3 linked regions of the Homo sapiens genome follow. The protein of the gene in region 3 purifies or fractionates together with the protein of the main gene of each other region. This does not show direct contact. Each region holds a gene or a part of one and is shown on either strand. Other genes may lie near its edges.

Evidence for each region.
Region 1: the proteins of ATMIN (region 3) and CAPN13 purify together in Homo sapiens (affinity purification with mass spectrometry; 2 studies listed by BioGRID and IntAct, with this or other methods). This does not show direct contact.
Region 2: the proteins of ATMIN (region 3) and SPECC1L purify together in Homo sapiens (affinity purification with mass spectrometry; 2 studies listed by BioGRID and IntAct, with this or other methods). This does not show direct contact.

Annotation. Positions count from the first base shown.
Region 1 is NC_000002.12:30,804,288-30,811,611, forward strand, and holds the start of CAPN13 (calpain-13), read right to left. Parts: upstream 3,160-7,324; 5' UTR 3,015-3,159; intron 1,980-3,014; exon of another isoform or gene 1,894-1,979; intron 1-1,893.
Region 2 is NC_000022.11:24,273,584-24,280,874, reverse strand, and holds part of SPECC1L (cytospin-A), read right to left. Parts: intron 4,176-7,291; 5' UTR 4,072-4,175; intron 1-4,071. UniProt on the Homo sapiens protein: Involved in cytokinesis and spindle organization. May play a role in actin cytoskeleton organization and microtubule stabilization and hence required for proper cell adhesion and migration.
Region 3 is NC_000016.10:81,030,987-81,039,132, reverse strand, and holds the start of ATMIN (ATM interactor), read right to left. Parts: upstream 3,292-8,146; 5' UTR 3,263-3,291; coding exon 2,927-3,262; intron 2,397-2,926; exon of another isoform or gene 1-2,396. Other genes in the region: CENPN (centromere protein N), read right to left, coding at 6,439-6,563. UniProt on the Homo sapiens protein: Transcription factor. Plays a crucial role in cell survival and RAD51 foci formation in response to methylating DNA damage. Involved in regulating the activity of ATM in the absence of DNA damage. May play a role in stabilizing ATM.

The sequences.
Region 1 (7,324 bases), on a different chromosome or scaffold from region 3:
CCTCCCTGCTTCATGCAATTCCCCTGCCTCAGCCTCCCAAGTAGCTGGGATTACAGGTGCATGCTACCATGCCTGTCTAATTTTTTTGTATTTTTAGTAGAGACAGAGTTTCACCATGTTGGCCAGACTGGCCTCGAACTCCTGACCTCAGGCAATCCGCCCACCTCGGCCTCCCAAAGTGCTGGGATTACAGGCGTGAACAGAGCCTTTTTAAGTAAATTGGAATCATAACTCTCTGAGGAGGGAAGAGTAGGAGGCAACATTCATCCAAATATTTGATCATAAATGCTTTATATCAAGGAGCCCCCAGCAACAGCCCCCAAAATTAGTGTTCTATGTATACCATGCTTTAGGAAACACTTGACCAAAAGATAGAGTCCCAAGGGTGGTAGAAAATCAACACCTCCTCTTGATTCTGCTCCCATCTTTTGCATGGCCGTGGACTTCCTTGCTGTCTATCAGTGGCATGCTCCACCATGGACGTTCTGAGAGAGTTAGGATGCCCTCAACCTGACTTCTTCCAAACCTTGAGGAGAGATGGAATGGACCAGCCTATCCAAAGTCCCCTTTATGGTTTTCTCATGGGAGAAAGAGGTGACATCTAGGCAGGAACATTAGTGCTGTACGCAGTGTTCAGCAGATATTAATGATAATTCAGTCTTTATTAAACCTTTCTTAGGTGCCATCTCAGGTTCTCTTAGCCTCAACCTGTCTCTAGGACTCTTGGTCCCTTTTTTACTCCAGCCAAGGAAGTGGCTCTTCTGACCACTTCTGGACTCAGATGAGGTGCCAAGCCTCTAGCAATTAGATCTAGTTTTCCCAGTGGCTGCCACAGGGGTCAGAAGACACAAGCTGGAAGTGCAGGACAGTTAACTCCCCATAGGGCAAGCTTTGAACAATAAGAGAGGAGACAGAGTGAGCCAACATATAAATGTCCTCTCTACCCTTGCTCGGATAGACTCTTCCAAGGCACAATGCATCTGCAACGCCAGTCCAGAGGGGCCCTGCTTTGGCCAAGTGGCTGGTCATGTCTCTTTGTGAAGAGAGGCCAGGTGGTGGCACATCATCCCTCACTGCTTCCCCTTTTTCTCTTCCCATTTCCCACTTCCCTGACTCTCACTCCCCTGGTGTCTTACCTTAAGTGCTAAGTAGCACTTAAGCTTTGCCTCAGGCTTTGTTTTATAGAGAACCCAGGCTAAAATAATGTCAACAATAATGACTAAAATATCTTCAGCACTTGCCATGTGCTCAAGTACTGCTAAGTGCTTTCCATATAGGATCTCATTTGATCCTTTCACTGATCTTTTGGGGTAGATTACTGTTGCTACCATGTCTTAGTGATGAGGAAACTGGGACCCCCAAGAGGTTAAGGAGCATGCCCCAAATCACACAGCTCACCATATGGAAGCATCAAGCACAATGCTTGATACGGAGTGAGCCTCAGGGCCAGTAGGTTGGTCTTTTTTTTTTGAGACAGGGTCTTGCTCTGTCACTCAGGCTGGAGTGCAGTGGCATGATCATAGCTCACTGAAGCCTCAACCTCCTGGGCTCAAGCAATCCTTTCACCTCAACCATGGACCCCTCCCCCTGCCTCCAATAGCTGGGACTACAGGTGTGCACCACCACATGTAGCTAATATTTTTTCCCAGACCCCCAATTTTTAATTTATTTTTGTAGAGACAGGGTTTCACCATGTTGCCCAGGCTGGTCTTGAACTCCTGGGATCAAGCAATCTGTCCACCTCGGCCTCCCAAAGTGTTGAGATTACAGGTGTGAGCCACAGTGCTTGGCTTAATGTGTGCATTTCTTCATAGCATCTTTTCTTCTAAGGTGTTCTTTCAAGAGGGTAACTGAATACAACCAAATAACTAGGGGACAAGACAGGGTACCTACCAGGCACAGCAGAACTCCAGCTCTGTCATTTGCATCTGGTATAAACTTTTGCAGCAAGTCACTCACCGGTCCCTCACTTTTTCCATCTACAAAATGGGATAATGAACTCATGCTATATATAGCTTTTGCCTATTACACAGTTGGTAGATTATTACATTTCCATCAACCAATCTACTAATAAGTAAGCCTCCCTACAGCTGTCACTCCTCCAACCTTCAAAATAACAACAACAACAACAACAACAACAAAAACCCACAATACTTATGTCAAGGTGGGTACAAAGGTGAGACAATTCAAGAGGATAATCTGATTGAAAGTCTAGTTAATGCCACTCGGGGGTAACCAAAGTTGTGTTTGTGACCCAGGACAAATGGGACAGTCAGTAGTTCATGACCCAACTGTAACTATAGAGGGAAAATATCTGCACTTATTCTAATCTGGTTAACTTGGGTCCAAGCTGAGCAGCTGGAACTGTCTCCCTGAGAACAGCATCACATCTCAAAGATTACATAACTTTAGCAGTTACAGAGACACATGTGTGTGACCATGACACCACTAGAGGCATATAGGAACCTCCTGAATCTCTGAAGTTGTAATGATCTGTCTTTTGTGATTAACCCAGAGTTGTCAACTTCATTCCTATAACTAATAAGCTAGATGATTAGAAAACAAAGGGCCCAGGTCCCATTCTTCCCTTTAGCAAATGTTTATTAAGCACCTACTATCTAACAGAAACTACACATCAGTGCACAAAGAAGACATGATTTCTGCCATCAATGTGTCCCTTACGGTGAACACAGCCCTCAAGGTCACAACTTAGAATGATCAGAAATCGAAGGTGACAGAATGATTAAGAAATACTCTCTTTGCATGAAATATGCAAAGTTTGGATTAGATTCTCTTAGAAAATTAACTCCCACTTTGCCCTAGTTTTTCTTAAAGCATATCCTTGGACCACCTGCATCAAAAAAACCCAGCTTCCAGAGCTACTGAATATGTACCTTGGGAGGTGGGAACTCAGAAGCGACATCATGAAGCTCTCTAGAAAATTGTACATGCTCACTAATGTTTAGAGGACTGCCTTGGTCCACAGCTCTGGGACATGACCACGCACAACTTACCTGTTTCCTAGGCAGGTGTGTCTGATGGAGGAGGGGAGACGGGCAGGTTCCACAGGCTCTCAGGTTAGAGAGTGGTGGAGGAGACTGGCAGAGGAGGAGAGCATGGCCGGCCGTCTTGGAGAAAGAGCAGTGCTGGTGTCTGCTTACTCCTGACCTCAGGCTTTTCCTTATATGGGTGTACCAGGTAAAGGCAGGCTCCACCTTCGTTAAACAGTGACTTCAGCATTGGGCAGTGGCCTGCCACCTCTTGGAGAGAGAGAGGACATTGAATGTAAACAGCAACAGCTTCCAGATTCTCCGCCCCAAGCCTATCTCTGCCTTATCCCACCTCACTTCCTGGGGCCCCTAAGCTGCCCGTTTCTTGGCTCTTGCAGTTTTCATTGTTTCCAGATATTTAAGTTTCTTTATCTTTATTCTGCTTCAGGGAATTTGTGTTTTGTTTTGGTTTGTTTTACAAAACCCCTCTGCTGAGAAAAGACTGAGGGAAGCAACCTTCCTTCAGGCCTCATTCTCATACAGGAAAGTACAATTGCCATGTCTCCTGCATCAAGAGTGGCCACTCCACGTCAATCATATCACATCTCTTTCTACTAGACGCAGTATCTTCTTTCTACAAATACATTGTAGAACACATTAACTCCTGGGCATGGCGAGACCCAGGGAAGGTCTCTGCATCATCCCTGCTTGCTGGATGGGGCAGAAAGAGATGAGGCGTGTAAAGTGCATGTTTCCTGTTCTCAAATCCAAGGGGCTATTTGCTTTTCTGGCATCTTTAATTCCTTGATGTTCTTCATCCCCATTCATAAGTGCTCTTTAGAAGCCAGTTCCAGAACCCTGATCGCATGGCACACCCTATGCTATAGGCAATAATGATAAAATAGGTAAAACAGGGAAACAATGTGGAAATCACCAAAAACTGTTATGACTGGTCCATTCCCAAATTCTGATGAGTAGAAAGGGATATTTGGCACATGAATGAAGAATCTGAGAAGCTGGAAAGTATGGATATGAGTTTTAACCCCAGTTTTGCAACTTTTGGCTGTGTGACCTGGGCAAGTCCCTTCCCATCTTAGTCTATTAATCCGTGAGCTGAGGATTATGATGCTTACCCTGTCTGCCTTGTGTTTGTTTAGTGGGATTCCTGCATCCCAGCGGACACCTTCTATTAGAAATTTCACTATAAATACAGTAAACAATACACACACACACACTATTGCATAAACATCATCAGTGAATAAATACGCAGATATCTGTGGTGCATGTTCAAAATGATTTTACTAATAGAGCATGCAATGAAAAATGTTGGAAAGCCATAGTTTCAGAAAAAAATGGTGAGAAAATGCTTCAGAAAGCCCTACCCACAAGGATATATCACAAGACAGTGTCTCAAGAAAATTAATTGGGAGTTTTCTTGCTTATTGATGATGGTTTTGTCATCTCCCATCTCTAAAAATATATTTTTCCCCCTAAGAGTGGGAGCTGTTATCCCCAGAGCAGTCTTTGGGAGTACTGAGTTAAAAAGGGAAACAGCTCCCGATGGAGTGTTCTAGGTGCCAAGAAACAAGCCGCTCTGGGTGATAATTGTGCCGGAAGAATGGCTTAGGTGAGGGACCCTGTCAAGAACACCTGTGCACAAATCCCAGGGGCTGTTTTCTTTTCTGGCATCTTTGATTCTTTGGTGTTCTTCCTCCCATTTATAGGTGCTCTTTAGAAGCCAATTCTCAGTGATTTGTTTTTTCCAGAGAATTCCAGCCGAAGGCTATAAACTGGGCAACACCTAACAGTAAGTTCTTAGCTGGACTTGCTCCAACTCTGAAGGCCGTGTGGCATGCCCCTTAAATGCTTCCAATGCCTTTCTGGCATTCCCTGCTGAGCACTGCATAGCTGCCCTGAGATGCAGTCCTTTGCGGCATGCATGGGACCCACCACAGCCCTCCTCTCCCTCTGAGTCTCGATCTCCTTCACTGTATGTGATGGCTTCTGTGTCACGGAGCCCCACTGGGGCCTCCCCTGCCACTACCTGTGTCTACCAAATACACTGATCCTGCTATGGCTGTCCAAGCCTGGCCTGTGAGGGCTGTTCTTCGAGTGCCAACTGTGGGTGTAGGAAATGCCGTCATTGCCATTGTGCTGTGGCCATACCTGCACTTCCTCTGCCACGCCATGACTGCCCCTGATGTGACTGGCTCCTGCACTCATGCCGCTGACATTTAGTGCTCAGTGTCCTAAAGAAATGCAAAGAAATAGCTCTTTTTTTGCAATCACTTCGAGCCAGAAGAAAACTGGAGCCAGACTAGGCTCAGGGTCCCCGTCCTCCCCTTATGAACCTAGGCTACAGTCCTTGAACCAATCTTGCCCACAGGGAGACCACCTTCTCTGAGAGAGACTTCTTTCTCCAGAGACTCCTTACTCAATCATGTCAACACACTCCTGAGTGCTCCCACTCACCAACCTGTAGCCATGCCTCAGAATACCCAGATCTTGAGAGACATAACTCTTCCTCTCTCCTTCCTTCCCCTTCTCCTTTCTGTCTTCTTCCCCCAACCCCACTGTTCTGTCTCCCTCTCTGCCTCTCCAACATTCTCTTACAAACTGTTTCTCATGCCATGTTGCCAGGCACTGCACCAGGCTCAGGGAACACAGCAGCAGGTCCAGCGGACACACAAGCCCAGTGGACTTAGAATCTAGTGAGAGACACACATGAAACCAATAACCACAAAAGCAGCCAGATTATTTCTCTTGCAATTAGTGCTATGAAGGGGATTTGCAGGTTCTAGGAGACACCCAAACAGGAAAAAGTAGGCAGTGCCTCCACTGAGGAGTCATGAGACGCCCTCCTGGGGAGTGAAGGATGTGGGGAGCCAGCCAGGAGGAGAGGGTCGAGGAGGAGGCTGTGGTGAGACTGGTAAGAATGTGCAAATCCTGTGTACAGCTTGATAAATGTTCACAAAGGAAACCCAAGTTACCGGCATCCAGATTAAGAAACACCATTACCAGAACCCAGAAGCTCCTTTGCACCCTTTCTCATAATGTCCTTTGGTTTACCCTCAAGGTAAACTGTCCTGAGTCAGTTAATTTTGAAAAGCCTTATCCTCTTTTCCTTTATAAGAAAACAAACCCTGTGTTGACTTAGGGAATTAAATCAAATGACCCTGTAAAATATCACAAAGGGGACTGTTTTGGCAGGGGAAACAGGTATACAGAGTGTTTACCACATGGTTAAATGGATCATTTAGCAGATTTCATGTACATTTCATGTATTTGTACATTCCCCTGTGGGTGGAAATAGCAAAGTCAACAAAGTGCAGTGATTTTTATTAATGCCGAAAAGTATGAAGTGCCTGGAGGTCACCCAGCTTGAGTTTGCTGTGCCATGGCTGCCAGCTAGGCAGATTACAAACTACCAAGTCAAGCCCAGGCCTATTACACCCCGGTTCCTTCTTGTGCCCTGGGGGACAGAACCCCAGCAAAAGCCAGAGTTTCCATTCTTATGCATAGATGAGAACACAGAGTGTGTGTGCGTGGTGGGGCAGCAGGAGGCGTGGAGGCAAGAGGAACATAAGGAAGCCAGAGATGGTTTAAAAATGAGTGATGTTCCTTATTATAAAATACTCATCACAGGCTGGGTGCAGTAGCTCACGCCTGTAATCCCAGCAGTTTGAGAGGCTAAAGCGAGTGGATCACTTGAAGTCAGGTGTTCAAGACCAGCCTGGGCAACATGGTGAAACCCCGTCTCTACTAAAAATACAAAAATTAGCCAGGTGTGGTGGTGCATGCCTGTAATCCCAGCTACTCAGGAGGCTGGGGCAGGAGACTAGCTTGAATCTGGGAGGCAGAGGCTGCAGTGAGCTGAGATCACACCACTATACTCCAGCCTGGGTGACAGAGCAAGATTGTCTCAAAAAATAAAATACAATAAACAAAATACTCATCACAGAAACTTTTGAAAAATTATTTAAAAGTTAAAAAATAACCATAATCTTATACTCAGAGATAATGATTATTTTTCGTCTTCCTTTTTCTAGACACAGCCACACATAATGCAGACATTTCAGTCACTGGCGCCTACAAGTGCTTGCAAGAGATGTCGACTCAGTGCTCACGTTCTGAATGCACTGGCTTGGAGCCCTTTCCCAGCTGATGCAACGTCTCCCCCTGGGAATCTCTGGGAAGCCCCGAGAGTGTCTGCTGGTTGTCCACCGAACATCTTCTGCATTCCATTAGGCATTGTGGTCTCTGGGGGACACTATACCTTCTCTAAGGGAGCTCTGTCCTCCCTAGGGTTATGAACTCTTGATTGACCTCTCTCT
Region 2 (7,291 bases), on a different chromosome or scaffold from region 3:
TGGCTCATGCCTGTAATCCCAACACTTTCGGTGGCCGAGTAGGGTGGAGAGCGTGAGCCCAGAAGTTCAGGAGTTCAAGACCAGCCTGGCCAACATGGTGAAACGCCGCCTCTACAAAAAAATACAAAAACTAATGGGGGGCGGTGGCAAATGCCTATAGTCCCAGCTACCTGGAAGGCTGAGGTGGGAGGATCACTTGAGCCTGGGAAGTCAGGGCTGTAATAAGCTGTGGTCATACTGCTGCCCTCCAGCCTGAGCAACAGAGTGACACTGTCTCAAAAAAAAAAAAAAAAAAAATGTTATTGAAACATAGTCACATTCATTCACATCTGTAGTGGCTGTGGTTACTTTTGCACTACAATGATGGAGTTGATTAGATGCAACAGAGACCTTAAGGTCTTCAATGACTAAAACATTTACTGTCTGGCCCTTTACAGACAGTCTGTCAATCCCTAATTTATTATATGCCTTCTTCTCCCTCAGCTAACTAATTGCCTCACCCCAGGAATGTTCATTACTACCTCTTCTTTGTTCAAGCCCCAGCTACTCCTCAAAACCCAAAATTCCCTTCTTCCCCTTTCCCAAATCCTAACCATATCAGCAGTTTGTGTGGAAGTAGGTAAGCAAAACACCATTCGTCATTATGTAAAGCAAGGCATTGGAGATGCGGTCCCTACATGTACAAGGGGAGGCTGATTACCCCCCAATTCATTTCCAATTTCTCAAAGCAGGTTGGCAGGCTAGCACCTAGGAAGGAGAGAGTGAGCAGATGATGCAGACAGAGCACTGAGAAACTCCTCAGTAACTCATGAGAGTTCATGTGTCAGTCCCCTTGTCTGCTATGTCATCCTTTAGACATCAATTCAAGACAGCAAAATTCAAAAAAGAAATGAGGAAGAAAAAGGTGATGAGGGGCAGAAGGAAAATAGAAGAGAACTTGTCACTTCACAATGTAGAGACTGTCACAAACTGTGGTGAATGGAAAACTATTCTGTTCACCTGGGCGTGGTGTCTCACGCCTATAATCCCAGCACTTTGGGAGGCTGAGGCGGGCAGATCACTTGAGGTCAGAAGACCAGCCTGAGCAACATGGTGAAACCTGGTCTCTACTAAAAATACAAAAAATTAGCCGGGCATGGTGGCACATGCCTGTAATCCCAGCTACTCGGAAGGCTGAGGCATGAAAATCACTTGAGCCCAGGAGGTGGAGGCTGCAGTGAGCTGTGATTGCACCATTGTTGCCCTACAACCTGGGCAACAGAGCTAGACCTGTTTCTAAAATAATAAATAATAATAATAATAATTAAAAAAATAAAATGTACATTTCTAACTTCATTTCAAAGTTAAGGCCAGGTGCAGTGGCTCATGCCTGTAATCCCAGTATTTGGGAGGCCGAGGCAAGGGGATCACTTGAGCCCAGGAATTTGAGACCAGCCTGTGCAAAATAGTGAAACCTTGTCTCTAAATTAAAATAAAATAAAAAGTAAACAAAGTCAAATTTTTTTTAAAAATCAGAAGAGAAACGTTGAACTGCATACTTCCAGGCCCAACAGAGTAGAGGTCAGCACAGGCGCAACCAGGTTGCATATCTACATACAATCTGCCCTGGCAGGAAGGATATCCTTTTCTTCCAGGTTTAACCACTCTAGGTGACCCAGATTATTTTAAATTATAGCGTCAACAATTTAAAGCAGCTTTTACTGTAAGGCACAATCTCAATAATTAATAGGGCAATATAATAAATACATAAAAGCTCAGGGAGAAAACAAGACTCTTGAATGGGCCTGGAAGTTTTGCCACGTCCCCCGAAGTACTCTCGGTTGCATCCTTCGGAACCTTTCAACACATATACATATACCTCCCTCATCCTTTTGTGAAGAGTGTCTATTAATCACTAGATTAAGAGGATTTGGATAAAATTTATAAACGTACAAACTGTGCTACCAAGGACTGACACATTTACTTTTCTGGCTCATCAGTTTATGTCCTAGAAAAACTCCAGATCCACATTAACCAGCTGTTTCCTATTTTACATTTTACGATGGTGTTTCCACTTTCACCTGCAAAGTGACTAATAGTAATACCTATTCCAGTAATTTAAGTAACACCATTTAGAGTAATTTCATCTTTAGTACTGTATTTATACTACTAAGAAAGCTGCCAACGATTCAAGCTGCACTCACTGGTGAAACCCTATGCTATATATGTAATTAATTTATTTCCTAAATTCTTACCTCCCTCCACCCCCTCCATTGGAAAATAAACTCTAAGAATGCAAAAGTTTTTGTGTGTTTTTCTTTAACGCTTAGAGCAGTGCCTGGCACCTAACAGTCAATATCTGCTAACTTTGATGAATGAATGGTATATTTATATTATGCAATATTACTATGCAGCCATGAAACACAATGAGTTAGAGTGGTACCAGCTAATTTAATGGAATTTCCAGAAGTATGAAATTAAGAAAACAAGAAGAAAAGTGTCAAAAATATCATCCCACTTTTTTTTTTCTTCCCTGAAACGGAGTCTTGCTCTGACACCCAGGCTACAGTATAGTGCTGCCATCATGGCTCACTGCAACCTCAAACTTCTGGGCTCAGGGAATCCTTCCACCTCAGCCTCCCATGTAGCTGGGACTACAGGTGTGTGCCACAACGCCCAGCTAATTTATTTTAAATTATTTTTTGTAGAGACAGGGTCTCCCTATGTTGCCCAGGCTGGTCTCAAACTACTAGGCTCAAGTGATCCTCCCACCTCAGCTTCCTGAAGTGTTGGGATTACAGGTGTGAGCCACTGTGCCCAGCCTAATCCCACTTTTTAAAAAGTATACCCCCAAATCCATACACTGGTGAGGAAGTGGAGAACGTGGAATCCTCATACACAGAATTTAAAATGGTACAGCTCTGGAGAACATTATAGCAGTTTCTCAAAGTGTTTAACATAGCTACTACACGACCCAGCAATTCAATTCCCAGATATACACCTGAGAGAACTGAAAGGATATGTCCACACAAAAATTTGTAGAGGAACTTGTACACACTTGTTCACAGTAGCATTATTCTTAATAGCCCAAAGTGGCAAAAACGCAAATGTTCATCAACTGATGGACAAATAAAGCATGAACAACTGATGGACAAATAAAGTATATCATTCAGCATATAAGAAATGAAGTGCTAATACATGCTACAACAGGGACAGACCTTGATAACATTTTGCTAAATGAAAAAAGCCAAACAAAAGGTCACATGTTGTATGATGCCATTTACATAAAAATACCTAGACTAGGCAAATCCATAGAGACACAAAGATCAGTGACTGCCCAGAGCCAGAGGGAGTGGTGAATGTGAAATGACTACTAATGAGTACAGACTTCTTTTTGAGGTATTGAACATGTTATGGAATCAGATGGTGGTGATCAATGCATAACTTTGTGAATATACCAAAAACCACATGAAAGGTACACTTTAAAAGCCTGAATTTTAAGGTATGTGAATTATATCTCCATAAACCTGTGATTTTGTTAATATACGCTTATTTGCAAATGAATACATGGATAATGAGGAATAATATGAAAGGTTAATGACAACCTTGGTGATAGGGTACCGGAGACTGGGAGAGGAAGATAAGTGTTGAGGTAGAAGAAGACAAAAAATAAAAGACCAAAACAATAATCCAAAGCCAGGGGCCATGAGTTGGGAGATGGAGCAAGACGAAGTGTACAAAGAAATGAGCATAAATCATAAAAATGAGGGAACTAGGGTTGAAAAACCCAGTAAGTAGTTTGTAATGGGGGAGACGAAGCAAACCTAAGTAACTGCAATGATTCAACAGAATTTGCAGAAAATGCAGAAGGGCGAGAAAAACAATGAAAAAATGGATCAGAAGATTTAAAATTGGCTCTACCCCACCAAAGTTTTAAAAAGCAAGCAAGAAGAAAATTCAGTTGCTCCTGGGCAAGAATTCTTGGGCCCAGTGGGGTAGAACCAAACCATGATAAGGAGACACCAGTGTTTTGTAAGCAAGAGAATATATTAAGGAGAGAAAAGGGGCATTTATTGGGAGAAAAGGTCTCACTGTGATTGTTCTGGAATAAAGTAGCCCCATCGGACTGCCTCAGGAACTCATGATGGAAGAGGTGCCACTGGAAAATGGCTTAGTCGGGATCTTCCCCAAGAACACTAGAAGAGAGAGAGGAAGAATAGAATAGCTTTAAATTTTAGCAGATATTTCTTTTTCTTGTTTAATTAAAATAAACCTTATTGACCTAATATTTTTGAGACTGGGCTCTTGCAATGCTGCCCAAGCTGAACTCAAACTCCTAGGCTCAAGAGATTCTCCCACTTCAGCCTCCTGAAAAGCTGGCACTACAGGTGCGCACCACTGGGTCCAGCATAATGGCTATTTCTTGACAAATCTTGACAATGCCACCAGTATGTTTTTCTTTAGAGACAGAGTCTCGCTTCGTAGCCCAGGCTGGAGAACAGTGGTGTGATCCCTAGCTCACTGCAGCCTCAAACACCTGGACTCAGGAGATCCCCCTGCCTCAGCCTCTCAAGTACCTGAGACCACAGGTGCGCACCACCACACCTGGCGAATTTTATTTTTTTTTATTATACTTTAAGTTCTAGGGTACATACACCTGGCTAATTATAAAATGTTTATCTGTACAGACAGGGTCCCGTTATGTCGCCCAGGCTGGTCTCGAACTCTCGGCCTCAAGCAGTCCTCTCCTCTTCACCTTCCAAAGCCCTGAAATATGCCCACATCCAGCCTGCCACCAGTTTCTTTGCATACTTCTTTCCTAGGCTTGACCAAGACCTTTACTTTCTTCTGTGTACAGCTCAGCATTGAAAAAAAAAAGTTTAGGCTGGGCACAATGGGTCACACCTGTAATCCCAACACTTAGGGTGGCCAAGGCGGGAGGTTTGCTTGAACCCAGGAGTTCCACACCAGCCTAGGCAAGATGGCAAGACCACGTCTCTCAAAAACAATTTTTGTAAAATTAGCCAGGTGTGCTGGTGCGGGCCTGCAGTCTCAGCTAGTGAGAAGACTAAGGCAAGAGGAACCCTTGAACCCAGGAGTTCAAGGCTACGGTGAGCTGTGATCACCTCTCCAGCCTGGGTGATAGGGTGAGACTCAGTCTCTGAAAACAACTAAAAATAAAAAAAGTTGAATAATGAGTCTTCTTTTTAGAGGCAATGTATTTTTCCTCTTTAACTTTTTGTTTTCCTTAGGCTATATGCACAATAGACAAAGTTGAAATTTAATCTTAATCTCTTAAACCCTTACTGTCCAAACACATCAAACTCAAAAAAAAAAAAAAAAGGTGAAAGGTGTACAAGAGAAAAAAGGGAAGTGATCTGTGTCAAATGTACATTCCTTCCACAATTTGGGATAAAAATGATGCCTACCTGGTCTCTGGGTGCCAAAATAAGACATTAGAGACACTCCCCTCCTTCAAGAAATAAAATTGGAATCAGACACTAAGGTACAATTAAACAGACTTTGAAAAGTTGGTACGCACTACTGGGAGGTGTCTCACAGCTGTCAGGGTCAAGTGCAACTAGAATAAAAGCTCCTAAGGGCAGAAACTAAGTGGCTCACTTCCTCTGTAACACTGCCGTGCCCAGCACTGTACCAGCACCCCAGCAGAGTCAACAACTTTCTGTCAAGCCACACACTTACGGTCTCATTGTCCAGTGGAGGCCGCAGACGAGACATAGTGTGCCAAATCCCAAATGCACAGGGTGCCAGACAAGTCTGCAGGAGGCAGGAGGACTAGGGAAGCCTTCCAGGCAAGGTGATGCCTGAGCTGAGTTGTTTTTCTTTTGAGTTTGGAACATTAATTTAATCGGAGGAAAACAAGGGACATGAAAAGGGCAAGGAAATAAGAAAATGAGCTGAGTTTTGAAGGCAATGATCAGATGAAGTGAGAGAAGAATATTCCAGCAGAGGGAGACAAGGAGACTGCAGAGATTTCAAGGGGCCAAGAGCTGTTCAGTGCAGCTCAGTGAAGCACCTAAACAGAGGTAGGGGAAGGAGAACAGGGGTCAAAGCCCAGTATTGAAGTGTTCTGGATACCAAGCTAAGGAGACCTTATTACGAAGGTACTGGGGCTGCTGAAGGGTTTAAATGGGAAAGTGATTGTGAACAGATTAATAGTTTGGAAAGATACAGGCAGAAGTAAACCTCTGGATTTAACCAAAAAATAAAGGACAGAACCACAATGAAGATGTTTGGAAAAGATCAGGAAAAACACTGTTAAAAGATATTCACTCTCTTCTCTTATTTACAGATTTCCTTTATGGAATACCAAATTATTCTTTGAAAATAGAGAACTCAGAAGTGGCTGAGAGCAGTCAGTCAGTCTTCAGAATGTAAAAACTACTATTCTGAAGAAGTAGATATTACATTATTAATTTCATTTCAAGATGCTTTAAAAACGTGCCTTTTGATACACTGCAGGTTTTTTAAGAGTATGTCACAATAACTCTAAATCTTACTTGAAATTAATAGAAGAGCACTATAAATTTTAAAGGCTTCACAGACACAGGGATCATCTGTTATGTTCACTTTGGAACAGATCATAATTGTCCCTCCCTCTCAACATACCCAAAATACGTTGTTTAAGGCTACTTTCCTAATGGTCATGTTATTTCACAGTAAAAGACTGAGGTCACAATGATTTCTGAGCTGACAGAAAACCCCATGGGGGTTCTTTACCTCGCATCTAGTCTATTCAGTACTAACAATTCCAACCACCAGAAAGAATTTCCCTGCCTAGGCTTATTTGTTGGCACAACACAAAAAAATCTCCTGGGGCTGGGTGAGGTGGCTAGTGCCTGTAATCTCAGCACTTTGGGAGGCCAAGGCAGGCGGATCACCTGAGGTCGGGAGTTCCAGACCAGCCTGACCAACATGGAAAAACCCTGTCTCTACTAAAAATACAAAATCAGCCAGGGGTGGTGGCACATGCCTGTAATCCCACCTACTTGGGAGGCTGAGGCAGGAGAATCGCTTGAACCTGGGAGGCGTAGGTTGCGGTGAGCGGAGATCATGCCATTAGACTCCAGCCTGGGCAACAAGAGCGAAACTGTCTCAAAAACAATTATATCTAATAAAAAAGATCTATTTAACAATGATCAGAATAGGAACATCTTTAATGCCATGCAAATTTAACAGCTTTCTCAGTGGATTTCTCAGTAGACTGTGACCAATGATCTCAAAATAAACTCATATTTACTCTTAAGAAATACTCTATATTTGAATCTTCTTAACAGCAAAAGCCCCAGGA
Region 3 (8,146 bases):
CAGTACTTTGAAAACAGGTATCAACATTGATGTTTGAGGCCTGGCGCAGTGGCTCACTCTTGTAATCCCAGTACTTTGGGAGGCTGAAGCGGGCGGATCACTTGAGGTCAGGAGTTCAAGACCAGCCCGACCAACATGGCGAAACCCTGTTTCTACTAATAAAACAAAAATTAGTCGGGCGTGGTGGAGCATGCCTGTAGTCCCAACTACTCGGGAGGCTGAGGCAAGAGAACTGCTTGAACCCGAGAAGCGGAAGTTGCAGTGAGCCGAGATCATGCCACTGCACTCCAGTCTGGGCGACAGAGTGAGACTGTCTCAAACAAACAAACAAAAAGAACAATGTTTGAGGCAGGGCATGGTGGCAGGAGCCTATAGTCTCAGCTACTGGGGAGGCTAAAGCAGGAGGATCACTTGAGCTCAAGAGCCTGACAGCAACCTGGGTTAACAGAGCAAGACCCTGAAAAGCCTTCTATGTAGTAACCAGACAAGGTACAGATCTCCATACTGGGCACCATCATATAGATGGCTATTGCATCACACAGACAACCTTCATTAAAGGAAGACACCAAGACAGGAGCTGCTCAGGGGCCACTGGGCACTGCGGTTAGAAAGCCAGGACAAGACAGGAAAGTCAGTCTGCTTGTCAAGAAAAAAATGATGGATCTGGTGAGGTATAATTCCTGCTAAAAAAAAGTTTGCCCTGGCTGGGCACAGTGGCTCACACCTGTAATCCCAGCCCTTTAGGAGGCTGAGGCGGGTGGATCACTTGAGGTCAGGAGTTCGAGACCAGCCTGGCCAACATGGTGAAACCCCACCTCTACTAAAAATACAAAAATTAGCTGGGCGTGGTGGTATGCACCTGTAATCCCAGCTACTAGGGAGGCTGAGGCAGGAGACTCGCTTGAACCTGGGAGGCAGAGGTTGCAGTGATCCAAGATGGCGCCACTGCACTCCAGCCTGGGCGACAGAGTGAGACTCTGTCTCAAACAAAACAAAAAAAACCCAACATAATTAGAAACAAACCTACTGTATACTAACCAGTCCTGAAAGGCAAATGGTATCTTTATGTTCAACAGATGTTTACCAGGGTCTTTAAAGAGCTAGAGCTCCTAACAACAACTCCACAGAAAGGAACAACAGAAACTATTAAGAAATAGTTCATCCACCTAAGTTATGATTAAATAAAGGATTTAGGTCGGTCGCGGTGGCTCACACCTGGAATCCCAGCACTTTAAGAGGCTGAGGTGGGTGGATCACCTGAGGGTCAGGAGTTCGAGACCAAGCTGGCCATCATGGTGCAACCTGTCTTTACTAAAAATACAAAAAAAAATTAGCAGGGTGTGGTGGCAGGTGCCTGTAATCCCAGCTACTAGGGAGGCTGAGGCAGGAGAACTGCTTGAACCCCGGAGGCAGAGGTTACAGTGAGCTGAGATGGCGCCACTGCGCTCCAGCCTGGGTGATGGAGTGAGACTCTGTCTCAAAAACAAACAAAAAAACACAAAAACAATAGGGAAGAAAAGGATTTAGTTAAAATTTAGTATGAAAACAAAACAACAGGTTGAAAGCCATTCCCAGAGTTACACTTGAGTGCTGAAAGAAACCCAGAGCTTTTCAGTCCAACAATTCGGCCCCACCTGCACGGTCTTCCTCAGCATACCTCAGGTACATTTCCTGACTGGCTCCCTGATCTTCAATTGAGAACGTTGTTGCATCCCGGTTTAGATGGTGGTAAGAGCAGATCACTCTTCATTGGCGACACATCTGTCCTACTAGAGACTACAACCTCAGAGTTTTCTGCTGTGAAATTCTTATCAGAAGCCTGACTATGGGCAGACAGAACATGCAATATTCTGGGTACTCTAAATTTACTCCTGATCATCAAAAGCTACATATTCGCAGAACTGCTTTCAATGACTTGCGCTTTTGAATTATGTCACTGCTGGCCTAGAGTGGTGGAAGGAAACTTGCCATTGTAATGACTGAGAGATTGTGACTTAACAGGTCCGGGGTGGGGCTGGACATCTGGATTTTTAATAAGCTTGTCACAGATGTGTCCCAAGGTTGAAAATGACTGCCCTGTTTTGCATAACGTGGAGGGTTGTTGAGACTATTGTCATGGTGTATTTACTGTGTCCCCCTCTTAAAGAAGAGCCACAGGGGCAATTTCCCTTAGGTCTCAGTCCTGAGCTGATCTTACCAACACCGTGAAACTGACTGATGGTGTTTAGAGGCAAACCTACCGCTCCTTTAAAACATTTTTTTATTCATAATCGACACACAGTAATTATTCCTACTGATGGGGTGCGGTGTGCAGCATGGATGGACATATACATTGCATAGTGATCAAGTCAGAGTGTTTAACATGTCCTCGACCTCAAACGTATTGTCTCTTGGTGGTGAGAACATTTAAAACCCTCTCTTCTAGTTATTGTGGCACATACAGTCCACTGGGCAGGACCCAAGGGCGGCATTGTGGGTGTCGTGGCAAGCACAGGGCTTTAGAACCAGAGGCCCCGGTTTAAAGCCCCGCATCATCTAGGTTGCATAATCTGTTTCTCATTAATATAATGGAGACGATGCGTCCCTCGCCAAAACGCCGTTAAGAACTCACAGGCAAAAAAGTGTAAAAAGCCTGGGCCGGCGTCCGGCACGACACTCGGGGCCAGGGAGCCAGGGAACCAGGGAACTGGCGCGTACGGCGGACCCGGGGCTCCCAGCTCCTCCTCCCCCCCAGAGGCCGCACCTGCGGCGCCTGCCGCGAGGGTTCGAGAGCCGCCTCCGGCCGGGGAGGGCAGAGGCCGGTGGGGCAGCGGCAGCGGCAGCGCGCAGGGCGCTCGTCCCCCCGAGGCCGGCTTCGCGCGCCGGCGCCGGGCGCTTTGTTGGAGCCAGGCCCGGCCCCCCGGGCCGCCGGCCGCGTCGGGCTCACCTGCAGGCGGTGGCTCTTGACTAGGTGCATGTTGAGCGCGGGGCTGTTGGGCAGGATCTTGCCGCAGCCGCGCACGGTGCACAGGATGTTGGTCCGCACGGCCCGGGACAGCTCGCTCACCGACGGCTGGATCAGCTCCCCCGCCGGCGGCGCGGGGACAGCGGGCTGCTGCGTCGCCCCCGCGGGCCGCGGCCGGCTGCCCCTCAGTCGGGGTCCCGGGGGCACCCACGGGCCCGAGGCGGCGGCGGCGGCTCCTGTCGTGGCCGCCGGGACGGCCCGGGCACCCGCCGCCAGAGCCGCGGACCCCGCCGCCGCCGCCGCCTCCGAGGCCGCCATGGCTCCCGCACGGCCGCCCGGCCCAGTTCGTAGGCCCCGCCCCCGCCGCAGCCACTTCCGGCAGGGGGCGAGGCCGCCAGGCTTGTTAGCATCCGGCGGGCCCAGGCGGCCGCGGCGCCCCCTGCCGGCCGCGGAGGGCGCGCCTTGGAGGGAGAGGACTTTAGGTGACGCCGCCAGGAGGCGAAATTTCACCTGCCAGCAGGTAAAAGGTATTGCCCCGCCTCTCTAATCGATCCATTCTTCCTAGGAAAGTGACTTCAGGCAGTAGTCACATAAAAGAAAAAGCAATACGTTGAGCAATGCGTTTACTTCCCAAAGATTAGAAACAACCCAAATGTCTAGTGGCAGGTGAGGCAGAAGTACACTGATTTCCGCCGTTGTTTATTACCTAGGCCTTACTGGGTACCAGGTGGGTCTGGTGGATGCACTTTTCATGCTGTGTCTCATTTTGTCTTCAAAACGACTGTAGCGGGTATGTACTGTAACTTGCCCCACCTTGTGCAGAGAAGGACATTTAGGCTTATATAAATTAAGTAACTTGACCTAGACCACACTATACAAATGAAAAGATTGTTATTATTGATAGGATTAATCATTTTAAGAAGGCTGGATTTGCTTGCTTCTATTTTAGCTGCTGAAATTAGGATTACTGTTTGGGAGACACTGCAGTTCAGTATACGATTACAAAACTTAATACTTAGACTGGGTAGTTCATGTAAATGGACATAGGAGGCTGGGGTAGACAAAAGGGAGGGGTGAGGACTGCAGTGAAATTGGAAACACATCCTTTATTAAAAGGGGGCAGCTGCTACTCATCTTTGGTATGGCTAGAGTTTTATGTGAAAATTTCCACCTTTTACATACTAGCAGCTATATTCGTTTTCTCTTGCTATTAATAAATTACCACAAACTTACTGCCTTAACACAAATTTATTATCTTCCAGCTCTGGAGGTCAAAAGAAATGAGACTGCTGGGCTAAGATCAAGGTGTCAGCAGGGCTGTATTCCTTCCCAAGGCTCCAGGGGAGAATCTGTTCACTTGCCTTTCCCAGCTTCTAGAGGTTGCCTACATTCCTTGGCTTGCGGACCCTTCCTCCATCTCCAGAATCAGTAACGGTGAGTTGAGTCTTCGTCACATCACATCACTCTGATTTCTTCAGTAGTGATCCCTCTGATTCTTCTATTCTTGAGGCCCCCTGTGATGACATTGGGCCCATTCAAATCATCCAGGATAATTTCTCCAACTGCCAAGTCCCTTTGCCTTGCAAGATAACTGTGATAATGTGAAGTATATATTTGGTCTTTGTCCTGGCATGCAATTCCTAAAATCCTTGGAATCAGCAAATTGGTGTTTTTTTGTATGCTAATTAGTTGACTGATGACTCACAGTCCCTAGGTAGCTTTAGGATGGGACTGGTCACTGGAAAGACCAAGGTAGGATTAGAGGCTTGAGACTTTCAGCCCTCCCCCTCAACCTCTGGGGAGGAGACAGGGGCTGAAGCTTAAGCTGATCAATCATTCCTAGGTAATGAAGCCTCCATAAAATCCCAAAAGAAATGGGTTTGGAGAACTTCCAGATAGCTGAATGCATGGAGTTTCCTGGAGGGAGGCGCACTCAAAGAGGGCATGCGTGGAAGCTCTTGCCCTATGCATCTTTTCATCTGAATCCTTTGTAACATCCCTTGTAAGAAGTCAGTCTATGTGTCTTCCTGAGTTCTGTGAGCTGCCCTAGCAAATTAATTGAACATGAAGAGAGGGTTGTGGGAAATGCAATTTATAGCTGGTTAGTCAGAAGCGCAGGTGAAACAACCTGGGGCTGGCAACTGGCCTCAGAAGTGGGTGGCAGTTTTGTGGGACTGAGCCCTTAACCTATGGGGTCTGATGATATCGCCAGGTAGTTAGTGTTGGAATTGAACTGGAGCATACCCAGCTGGTATCTGCTGTAGAACTGATTGCTTATGTCAACCAAGAAGAGGTGAAAGGGCCAGGCATGGTGGCTCACGCCTGTAATCCCAGCACTTTGGGTGGCCGAGGCAGGGCGGATCACGAGGTCAAGAGATCGAGACCATCCTGGCCAACATGGTGAAACTCTGTCTCTACTAAAAATACAAAAATTAGCCGGGTGTGGTGCGCACGCCTGTAATCCCAGCTACTCAGGAGGCTGAGGCAGGAGAATCGCTTGAACCCAGGAGACGGAGGTTGTGGTGAGCCAAGATCGCACCACTGTACTCCAGCCTGGTGACAGAGCAAGACTGTCTCAAAAAAAAAAAAAAAAAAAAGAAGAGGTGAAAGACCACACTGCAAAGCAGTAAGACAAGGCATTTTTTTTTAATTAAAAAAAAAAAAAAGAAAAGAGACAGGGTCTCGCCATTTTGGCCAGCTTGGGGTCAAGTGATCCACCTGCCTCGGCCTCCGAAAGTGCTGGGATTATAGATGCAAGTTACCACGTCCAGCCAAACAAGGCATTTTGATTGGGGTCTTAGAAATTACAATTTGGGAGACACAGATTCACCTAGAAGCCAAATGGGGTTCTGAAAAGAGGGAGAGAAGTAGATGTTTTTAAAAGAAAGCAGAGGGTTAATACACAAATTGTTTTGAAAGAATTATCATTGGTGGAGGTGGCTGGCTTAGTACATGAATCCATAGTTGATTGGTTGCCGCTGTTCAGGAGTTGTAGCACTGGTGAAATTCAGTTTTCCAGGATGTAGTGGTTATTGCAGTTTTGGCCCAGTTCAAAGCTTCAAGGCAAGTTCATATTTTTTGTTTTTGTGTTTTGCAAGTTGCAGATTGTGCAGGCAGTCCTTCTTAGAATGGCTTCCCAACTCCATTTTAGAGCTCTGAACCAAAGTGATGCCATTTTGTGTATCACTTTTCACATTTTCCTTTTTTGATCAAGATCCGAGGCAGCATAGCTGATTAATCATTGGTTGGTTGGCCACAGATTAGTTATCTGTTCCCCTTAGAGCTAGAAGCACCTGTGTCTAGAGTGTTATGTCCCACAAAAAGTGGTTGTCAAGTCAGTGCACATCCAAGCTTCCAAGATTGGTCAAATTTGAGTAACAAAGGGTCCATTTTAACAAGGAGGCCTGCATTAGTCTATAGCAGTTAGCTGTATATCAGGAGAGACATACATTTGATTAACCATTTAAATGTCTAAATGTTGTGACATCATGATTTTAACATCTTGGATACAATGGGACAAACAGAAGGTACAAGTCCTTCTGCCAGCTGCTCGGGTCCTGGGTCCCTTGACTGTGGCTTCCAGAATAGCAGAGCAGCTTTTGGATCCTGCAAACAAGTGCTAAAAAAAAAAAAACACTGAAAATCAACTGATAAAAGACGGATTAATAGGAGAAAAGACATACAAGTTTTATTAACGTGCCTGGTGGGGAGGGGAGGCATCAGAGTGATGATTCCCCAACCCCCAATGGGGTGTGGACGCTTATATACCCTTTTTCATAGGAGAGTAAGGAGATGGGGAACGTGTGTAATTCTTCTGAGGAGCAGTAAATTATTATAAGGGAGAGTAAATGGACCAGGGAGACAGAAATTAACTTGTAAATGATTCTCTTTGGAATCTGAATGAGCCTGAGGGGCAGGCCTTATGAAAAGGTCCATCCATATGTGGCTCTATTCCTCAGTCTTCATTTTTTGATAGATAATGAGATTTGAAGGACAGAATAGAAGGCAACTGTGTTTCTTTTAGTAAGAAGCTTTCTTAGTCAGACAAGGAAATTCCAGAGGGAGTTCCTCTCTGCCCTTGGTTGAGGCAAGAATAAGACAAGGTTGGAGGGACCTTGACTCTCAAGTGTATTTCTCAGGCCTTTCCATTTTCAAAAGCATCCAGCATGCCAAAGTACCATCATTTTCTGTGCCTCAATATTCCCTAGTCTGAAATTTCCCTAGTAGTTTCACAAATGAAACAGTGAGTTGGCCATGAAGAGAAAAATCAAGTTAAATAGAATTTTGGCTGGGCACTGAGGCTCACACCTGTAATCCCAGCACTTTGGGAGGCCGAGGCGGCAGGATCACTTGAGGTCAGGAGTTTGAGACCAGTCTGACCAACATGGTGAAACCCTGTCTCTACTAAAAATACAAAAATTAGCTGGGCATGGTGGCACGTGCCTGTAATCCCAGCTACTGGACAGCTGGCAACCAAGGACGTTGGATAAAGAACCTCAACCAAGGTAGGGGGTTAAGGAATGAGACAACTCGTAAACAGAATCCGTGGCCATGGGAGAGGTGTGGAACACAAGGGGTTCCTCCTGCAGGAACTGTGCTCGAATCCGTGGCCGCACCAGAACAAAGAAGGGAGTTGCTTTTTTGTCCCACTCAATTCTGACACCATTTAATGTCATCCAAGGGGCAAAAGACCACACTGCAAAGCAGCAAGACAAGGTGTTTTTATTGAGGTCTTAGGAATTGCAATTTGGGAGACAGATTCAGCTAGAAGCCACTTGTGTTCTGAAGAGAGAGGGTAGAGGAGGGGTTTTTAAAAAAAGCTGAGGGTGATTAGACAAGTTGACAAGTTGTTTTGAAAGAGGCAACTGGCTTAGTACAAAAATCCATAGTTTATTGGTTGGTGCTGTTGAGGAGTTGTAGTGCTGGTGAAATAAAATTTTCCAGGATGCAGTGGTCATCGCAATTTGGCCCAATTCAAAGGTTCAAGGTAAGCTCCTGTATTGTTTTTTTTTTGGAGCTTTTAATTTTTTTTCAAGTTGCAGGTCATGTAGGGAGTCCTTTTTAGAATGGCTTCCTCCCTCCATTTTAGAGCTCTGAACCAAAGTGATGTCATTTATTTTATTTTATTTATTTATTTTTTAAGATGGAGTCTCACTCTGTCACCTAGGCTGGAGTGCAGTGGTGCAGTCTCGGCTCACTGCA